Regions from separate parts of the Homo sapiens genome. Here all the other regions are reported to be linked to region 3. Evidence: microRNA targets listed by miRTarBase, many of them from high-throughput screens and not tested one by one. Region 3 holds a microRNA gene; each other region holds the end of a gene's coding sequence.

Evidence for each region. The annotated mature microRNA hsa-miR-548d-5p reads AAAAGUAAUUGUGGUUUUUGCC and lies in region 3 at 1,193-1,214, opposite strand. An mRNA with a match to its seed (bases 2 to 7 or 8) in the 3' UTR can be bound and repressed. Matches are read on the target gene's strand: a 7mer-m8 pairs with bases 2 to 8, a 7mer-A1 pairs with bases 2 to 7 and ends in A, and an 8mer does both.
Region 1: miRTarBase lists HOXA13 as a target of hsa-miR-548d-5p. Seed matches in the 3' UTR shown: 7mer-m8 at 1,755-1,761 and 7mer-A1 at 2,544-2,550.
Region 2: miRTarBase lists ABHD5 as a target of hsa-miR-548d-5p. Seed matches in the 3' UTR shown: 7mer-m8 at 1,084-1,090.

What each region holds. Positions count from the first base shown.
Region 1 is chr7:27,195,610-27,198,609 of GRCh38, reverse strand. HOXA13 (homeobox A13) reads left to right here. Exons shown (of 2, transcript NM_000522.5): 2 at 168-3,000. The coding sequence ends at 412. Among named protein-coding and RNA genes, the nearest start is that of HOXA13, 3.0 kb to the left of the region's middle.
Region 2 is chr3:43,718,022-43,721,021 of GRCh38, forward strand. ABHD5 (abhydrolase domain containing 5, lysophosphatidic acid acyltransferase) reads left to right here. Exons shown (of 7, transcript NM_016006.6): 7 at 422-3,000. The coding sequence ends at 511. Among named protein-coding and RNA genes, the nearest start is that of ABHD5, 29 kb to the left of the region's middle.
Region 3 is chr17:67,470,348-67,473,499 of GRCh38, forward strand. It overlaps MIR548D2 (microRNA 548d-2), which reads right to left and starts at 1,238; the gene lies at 1,142-1,238. All of the region lies in intron 1 of PITPNC1 (phosphatidylinositol transfer protein cytoplasmic 1), which reads left to right. MIR548AA2 (microRNA 548aa-2) reads left to right here and starts at 1,142; the gene lies at 1,142-1,238.

The DNA of each region.
Region 1 (3,000 bases), not on the chromosome of region 3:
AACTACCTTCCCCACTGACCCTCTAGGCTTTAGCAGAAGACAGGATTGTACAGCGGGTGGCAAAGAGCAGCCGGGCGCTGCAAGGCGGGTGGCTCAGATCGAGCTGTCGCCTATGCCCTGGCTGGGGTCCGATCCCTGTGTAACTTGCCTTCTCCCTTGTCTTCTAGACGTGGTCTCCCATCCCTCGGATGCCAGCTCCTATAGGAGGGGGAGAAAGAAGCGCGTGCCTTATACCAAGGTGCAATTAAAAGAACTTGAACGGGAATACGCCACGAATAAATTCATTACTAAGGACAAACGGAGGCGGATATCAGCCACGACGAATCTCTCTGAGCGGCAGGTCACAATCTGGTTCCAGAACAGGAGGGTTAAAGAGAAAAAAGTCATCAACAAACTGAAAACCACTAGTTAATGGATTAAAAATAGAGCAAGAAGGCAACTTGAAGAAACGCTTCAGAACTCGTTGCTTTGCCCAGATAATGATAATAATGCTTAATAATAATTGAAGAATGGGAAAGAGAAAGAGACAGAGACTGGCATTTTCCTCTCCCGAAGGAGATCTCTTTCTCTTTAATGGAATCTACAACTGTTTTAAAACTTTAAGAAAGGTAAAGACTGCCAGTTCTTCCGCCAACCCCATCAGCCCAGCCCGTTAAATGTCAAACGTCAACCCCCAAAATACGCAATTTCAGATAAGTTACGCAGTTACTGAAATCTTGTAAGTATTTAAGTGATCGTTACATTTTAGGACACTGCGTTAGATGGTAATAATCTGGAAGTTGGTTACAAACGCAAGAGGCCATTGTAAACATCTGCTTGTCCTTCTTAGGTCGCCATTCCCTTTGCATGTTAAGCGTCTGCTCAGGTAAATCTTAGTGAAATTCCTACCGTTGTTGTACGTTCTGCAAAACATTTTATGTATAGATTTAGAGGGGAAACGAGAAGGTACTGAAATAATGATCTTGGAATATTTGCTGTGAAGGGAGAAAGGGAGAGAAAACTCTTCTGAGGATCATTTGTCTTGGTAGTATAGTAAAACCAACCAGCTGAACCTTTCAGGCTACAAGAGAACCCGGGTCGGTAATGTCTTTTTAAGAATAATTTTTAATTGCTTATAACAAGCATATTTTGTGGCATTTGAACTATATTTACTGCTCCAATATCCGTTATTTTCCAAAGGATTTTGTATCTTTTTGAAAATGTTTACATCATCAGATGATCCACAGAATTCACTTTATGTGAGATCTCCCGAGAGTTTCCATCCCAACATGATGGACTTTGGTTTGAACACAATTCGTTTTTTCATTTGAATTGGCATTTCCCAATATTTGCTAAACATTTGCTGGAGAAATCATTTTTCTTTTTTCTTTTTTAGAAAACTCAGAATGAAAATTCATTCCCCTGAAATATTTAGGTGTCTATATTCTATATTTTGATCTATTAAGGGATTAGTATTTTTCCATGTTTATTGTGTTATCAGAGTGCATTAGAAAGATTAGTGATTCATCTTCACAGCACATTTTTAATCAAGCAGTTATTTCAACCAGCACATTCGTTTTGTTCATATTCACTATAGAATGATATCTTGTAAATAAAGACATTCAGCACACTGTGAAAATGTATTTGTGCACCTGCTTTTTAAATATTTCTACTAAAAATGAAAAAAAAAAACCCTTAGACCTGTAGATAGTGATATCGTAATATTAATTGTTAATAAAATAGTCACTGCCATTAAAATCTGCAGAAAATACTCTTTACTTTCCTATGCTAAATGTGCACTGCACAGAAAGAAAAGGAGCAGGTTTATCTTATATAAACCAAGGACCATTCTTTATTATTATTCAGTACTTCTTTTGCTACCAAATTTTTAAGAAAAGGGAGAAATCCCTCATAACTAAAATCCTAAAAAATGATAAGTGCTTCAAGGAGATTAAAGTGTCAGGTATTACAAAAGGGAGAGAAAAGAAAGGAGGAAGAGATAGTATGAATTCCCAGGCTCCCTGTGGAAAATGAAAACCAGTTGTTTTGTAGCAGCAATGCCTAGGCTGTCGTATTTTAAAATCTGCTGTTGGGTCTGCATGTGTCTGAGAGGGCAGGTTTTGATATTTGTTGAAATGACAGGACTACGAAAGGCCTTAAACCTTGACCTTGACGAAAAAAAAGACAATTTGTGACCTTGACTTTTGACAGCTCATGAATTGGCCTTAGCTGGATTAGTAGATCAAGGGCGCCACCTCGCGTTGACAAGCCTCCTTGTAATTCTTCAACCAAGGGAATCAAGAGCTCTTACCTCCTTGACTTTAGAGATTCAGTACTCAATTATTTGGCTCCAGCTGGAGCAAATTTGAATATATGTAAATTATACATGTCCCTGTATATATGTAAATATATATAATATGTGTACACATGTATACATTTGCATATTAGTGCTTGTGTGTGCTTGTATATATATTTGTAGAATCTGTACAGATATCATATCATTAATTGCTAATGACGCAAGATATTGTAATTTAAGGTGATTTCTAGAATTGAGGTACAAAATGTACTTTACAAGATGAAGCCTTGTTCCTTTTCTCTAATGGCCAAATTTGATTTGTCTTCACAGTGGCTTGCTCTGCATCAGATTTCTGCAGATCTGCTTTAAAGCTGTACATTTTTGTTACAGTCTAAGATGTGTTCTTAAATCACCATTCCTTCCTGGTCCTCACCCTCCAGGGTGGTCTCACACTGTAATTAGAGCTATTGAGGAGTCTTTACAGCAAATTAAGATTCAGATGCCTTGCTAAGTCTAGAGTTCTAGAGTTATGTTTCAGAAAGTCTAAGAAACCCACCTCTTGAGAGGTCAGTAAAGAGGACTTAATATTTCATATCTACAAAATGACCACAGGATTGGATACAGAACGAGAGTTATCCTGGATAACTCAGAGCTGAGTACTGCTCCAGGGTGGTGTGCAATCTTATATTGATGCTTGTGAATCTGCCATTTGATTTGTAGGATAA
Region 2 (3,000 bases), not on the chromosome of region 3:
TGCACACATCTTCATGTCCAAACCGTGAACTACCTTTCTGAATGACTTTTCCTGTCCCTAGAGCCACAGCATTAGGAGAGATGGACAGAGGGATTGGTCCAGTAGCACTTCAAGTAATTCCCACCTCACAAGGCAGCACACTCTCACTTTTTTCAGTTTCTCTGTTGGCACTTTTATTAGTGGTCAATTTAGTGTTTTTTGCATATTAAAATTTTATTGAGATTCAGTAGATTTTTCTATTCTCAGATCCTTTTAATGGATATACTTAATAGTTACTATAGATTATTGTTATTTTTTAATCACGTGTTTTATTTAAATACAGTGGCTCTCACTTTTATTACTAAGTGTCTTTGCTTATATATCATTCTGTTTTATTAAATGCTTTTACTCACTAACTGTCTGAATGCTTTTCCTTATCCAGGCTATTCTTGGGGCAGGACATTATGTATATGCAGATCAACCAGAAGAATTCAACCAGAAAGTAAAGGAGATCTGCGACACTGTGGACTGAACACACTGAAGCTCTGATGGGAAAACCTGGTGACTGATATAGTTGTTCAGCAATAATTCATAGTCTGTGATGAAGAGTAGTGAATACAACACACAACCAGGCAGCCTTCTTGACTATACTTTGCACATGTTTTCTTTAGGAATTCACTCACACATTTAAACCAGTTAGTGCCTTCTAGAAGAATGGCTTTCCTTTCTCCTACACAAAATTGAAATATACAAGTCTCTAAATATAATACCTTTAAATAAAAGGTTATTTGTCCCTCTGATGTACTGAAAAACTGTAATTTTTCAGCTGAAAATTTTTTAATCTAACTTTGCTAGTTATTTTTATATTGCAATCTATATTACCAATTTAGGAAGTGATTTCTGAGTCTCTTACACTGTAAAGGTGCACTTTATTTTCTTTGTCTTCCCCATCATGTATTTATTGTGTCTTGATAACTGATATTAATCTAAATTCAATGTGTTTTTATGTAAAAATTTGTCAGTTGTTTAGAATATTTCACTTTGTTTTTGAAACGGAGTGACAAGGCAGATTTTTGGTTAGAGGACGGGAGTTGATCACTATCATTACTTTTTCTAGTTTACCTGTTTTTTATATTTAAGGCTGCTAAGCCATGTTCAGCATTTTAAATGTGGTCTATCCTGACATACAGTGTATAACAACATAACTCCTTGGAACCTCCTATGTGTGGTATAATTCTACTCTTCCAAGGAACATGACTTCAATACTTTCAGTGATTCAGGTACTGAAAAGCCTTACCTAAAAGGCTGTTCTTTGTTTCCCCCTTTCATACTATTCTTTTCCATGACCCAGGATGCAGCAAATGAAACAGATTTCTTCTCTTAAGGGGATATTAAGACTGTTACTTCCTAGTAAGCCAAGTAATACCATATTTTTATTAACATCTAACTTTTGTAGATGGGTGCTAAAATTGCATACATTTTAACCACTAAAATAGAAAAACAAGTGGTGCTATTATGTCTCATGGCACCAGAAATGAGCTAGCACTTGGGTTTGTTGTTGCTGTTGTTTATTAAGAGTATTGTGTTAATTAAATCATTACATACTTGAAGTTATATTACAAAAATTCTAGAAGGTTGATTGAACTATTTTTTTAGGAACTACCATCAAGTGTAGCATTTTCTTGCAGTTTTAAAATGAGGAAAACTTCTTTGAAACTGTGAAATGCTCCATGTGGTAACTGGCTGCTGAGAAAACCCTTCACCAAAAAAATAAATAAAAATTGAATAGGATTGTCATCAAGAAGGCATCTTTCGCTAACGTTGCTTGTCTAGGAGAAAGGTAGCTATGTAAATAAAAACAGTGAACTAGAGCAAATAGTGGTTTAATGGTTTTGTTATTGCATTTTTAAAATGGTTAATTAGGGAATTTGTAGTTGTTAGGAAATGTAAGGTTGTGTCACTGTTGATTAACTGCCAGAAAGACTGAATGTTCTATTTTCAACATTTCTCCCCTATAAAAGAATAGACAAATTATACTGAAGCATGATATAAACATCTTCCCAATGAACAATTTGTCTCACTTGTCAGATTAACTAGGTTAGTGCAGGAAGCAACATGAGCGCCAAGATGTGTTGTCTGATTTCTCTACCTTAAGAACAATAATAGTCTTTTTAGTTAGTATTTTGGATGGCCAGGTTTCAAACCTGTATGTGGTACAAATAATTTGGGTAATATTTTTGTATTTTTGTTTTACACACTCTCTAATCTCAATTATCCTTTGCTGGGAGAATGACAGGTTTCACTTATACAGGAAGGTTTTTGCACAGGAAATTTGGTCCCAGCCCTTGGAAGGAAGAAGTTCCTTCGTTTACTTAGTGAATGGAGTTTCTGGCCGCAGATGTGCCAAGTGATTGAAGAAAGATATACCCCAATATCAAGTGATAATTTATTTTCCTACAGACTGAATTTGCTTTATTTGAAAGATGTTGTAACTCTTTTTAAAGTTAGATTTTACCCTGAGGTATAGTATATGTAATTTTGTGAAGATTGAGCTGGAAGGGAAGTTCACAATCCTCACATTTAAAAAAATATAGTGGGTGCTAAATGTTTTCTTAAAAATCTAGTACAGCATTTGATCTTTGTTATGCACAGCATACTTTTATTTTACAGAATAAATTTTCCTGTGATAGTCACAACAAGACAGCTGTATAGTTTCTTGAGTCTTTTGTATGGACCAGTCTCTGTATAATAGTTAACTACAGGACTGTGGATCCAGCAAATGTTCAGTAAATGCTGCTGTTGTTCTTAGGGAAGGCTACTCTGGGTGTTGTGGCCGCCATACATGGCTTTACCTGGGTCCATGCATTCCCTTAAGATGACTTCTGTTTTCTTCTTTTTTCTTCTGATTTTCCAAAAAAAAAAAAGCCTTGCCTAAGGTTGGTTTTAGAATATGATTTGCAGAACACTTTTGAAATGTCTTCATTCATATATGTAATATATATTTATACTTAAAGGGCCATA
Region 3 (3,152 bases):
CACCCCTAGAACTTCCCTTGTGACTTTTAGCTGTCAATTACTTCTCTCTACCCCCCACATTCCCCACTCCTGTTCCTAACAAGCACTGATCTGCTTTTGCACTAAAGTCTTGCCTTTCTTAAAGTTTCCTATAGATGCAGTCATACAGATGTAGTCTCTTGTGTCTCACTTCTTTTGCTCAACACAATGTTTTTGAAATTCATCCATATTCCCCGTCCGGGAGGGAGGTGGGGGGGGTCAGCCCCCCTGCCCGGCCAGCCGCCCCGTCCGGGAGGTGAGGGGCACCTCTGCCCGGCCGCCCCTACTGGGAAGTGAGGAGCCCCTCTGCCCGGCCACCACCCCGTCTGGGAGGTGTACCCAACAGCTCATTGAGAACAGGCCAGGATGACAATGGCGGCTTTGTGGAATAGAAAGGCGGGAAAGGTGGGGAAAAGATTGAGAAATCGGATGGTTGCCGTGTCTGTGTAGAAAGAAGTAGACATGGGAGACTTTTCATTTTGTTCTGCACTAAGAAAAATTCCTCTGCCTTGGGATCCTGTTGATCTGTGACCTTACCCCCAACCCTGTGCTCTCTGAAACATGTGCTGTGTCCACTCAGGGTTAAATGGATTAAGGGCGGTGCAAGATGTGCTTTGTTAAACAGATGCTTGAAGGCAGCATGCTCGTTAAGAGTCATCACCAATCCCTAATCTCAAGTAATCAGGGACACAAACACTGCGGAAGGCCGCAGGGTCCTCTGCCTAGGAAAACCAGAGACCTTTGTTCACTTGTTTATCTGCTGACCTTCCCTCCACTATTGTCCCATGACCCTGCCAAATCCCCCTCTGTGAGAAACACCCAAGAATTATCAATAAAAAAATAAATTAAAAAAAAAATGTAAAAAAAAAAAATGTAAAAAAAAAAAAAAAAGAAATTCATCCATATTATTGGATGTATCAATAGTTTGTTCCTTTTTATTGCATAGTAGCATTCCCCTGAATGGATATACCACAGTCTGTTTATTCATTTACCAGTTGATGGACATTTGGGTTACTTCCAGTTTTGGATGATTTTGAGTAAAGTTGCAATGAACATTCACATACAAGTCCTTGTGTGGACCTACGTCTTCATTTGAGAGATTTTTTTCCTTTTAAACTTTTTATTTTATTAGGTTGGTGCAAAAGAAACTGTGGTTTTTGCCATTACTTTCAATGGCAAAAACCACAATTACTTTTGCACCAACCTAAATCTTCCCTCTCTCTGGATTTGCAATTATTCTGTAAATCTAAAGTTAACTTTAGCTAAATCAGGTTGACATCATATACCCCCTAAAGTTAACTTTAGATTTACAGAAGAGTTGCAAATCCAGAGAACCCCCCGTAGTCTTCATCCACCTTCCCCCAATGTTAATATCGTACTAATTATGATACATTTATCAAAACTCAAAAATTAACATGGGCACAGTTGTATTAACTAAACTCCCGACTTTCTTCAGATTTCACCAGTTTTTTCCACTAATGTCCTTTTTCTGTTCCAGGATTTAATCAGGATATAATGTTGCACTTAATTATTATATCATAATAGTCACTTTCAATCTATGTCAATTTCTCTGTCTCTCCTTGTTTTTTTATGACTTTGACATTTATGAAGTGGGCTGGTCAAGTATTTTGTAGGATGTCCCTCAATCTGGATTTGTCTGATGTTTTCTGATCATTAGACTGCAGTTGGGGTTTGGGGAAAGAATACCCCAGAGGTGAAATGGCCTTCTCATCACATAATATTAGGGGGCACATGATATCTACCTGATTGCTCACTGGTGAAGTTAACCTTGATCACTTGGTTAAGGCGTTGTCTACCAGAGTTACCCACCGTAAGCTGCTAATTTCCCTTTCCATACTCTGTTCCAGGGGTGTCCAATCTTTTGGCTGCCCTGGGACACATTGGAAGAAGAATTGTCTTGGGCAACACATAAAATACATCATTAACACTATGACAGCTGTTGAGCTAAAAAAAAAAAAAAAAAAAAAAAAAAAAAAAAGGACCGGGTGCGGTGGCTCACACCTGTAATCCCAACACTTTGGGAGGCCGAGGCGGGTGGGTCACGAGGTCAGGAGATCGAGACCATCCTGGCTAACACAGTGAAACCCCATCTCTACTAAAAATAGAAAAAATTAGCCGGGCGTGGTGGTGGGCGCCTGTAGTCCCAGCTACTCAGGAGGCTGAGGCAGGAGAATGGTGTGAATCCAGGAGGAGGAGTTTGCAGTAAGCCGAGATTGCACCACTGCACTCCAGCCTGGGTGACAGAGGGAAACTCTGTCTCAAAAGAAAAAAAAAAAAAAAGGTCTGTGCATAAATATCATAATGTTTTAAGAAAGTTTATGAATTTGTGTTGGGCCACATTCAAAGCTGTCCTGGGCCACGGGTTGGACAAGCTTACCGTCTATTCATTAGAAGTGAGTCACTCAGGGGAGGGAGATTAGGCCCTGCCTCCTACAGGGAGGGGTTTCAAAGAATTTGTGGACATATGCTAAAACCAGCACCATAATTAATGTGGTATTTTTTTTTTTTTGACGGAGTCTTGCTCTGTAGCCCAGGCTGGAGTGCAGTGGCCTGATCTCGGCTCACTGCAAGCTCTGCCTCTCAGGTTCATGCCATTCTCCTGCCTCAGCCTCCTGAGTAGCTGGGACTACAGGTGCGCACCACCATGCCCAACTAATTTTTTTGTATTTTTAGTAGAGAAGGGGTTTCACCATGTTAGCCAGGATGGTCGCGATCTCCTGACCTCGTGATCCACCCGCCTTGGCCTCCCAAAATGCTGGGAATACAGGTGTGAGCCACCGTGCCCGGCCAATTAATGTATTTTTATTATTTTAAAAGTTATTCTTATTTTTAGAGATAGAGTCTCACTATGTTGCCCATGCTGGTCTTGAACTCCTGGGCTCAAGCTGTCTACCCACCTCGGCCTCCTAAGTGCTGGGATTATAGGCGTGAGCCACTTTACCTGGCCTGCTTGTTTTTTTGAGACAGAGTCTCGCTCTGTCGCCCAGGCTGGAGTTCAGTGGCACAATCTCGGCTCACTGCAAGCTCCACCTCCTGGGTTCACGCCATTCTCCTGCCTCAGCCTCCCGAGTAGCTGGGACTACAGGCGCCCGCCACTACATCCGGCTAATTTT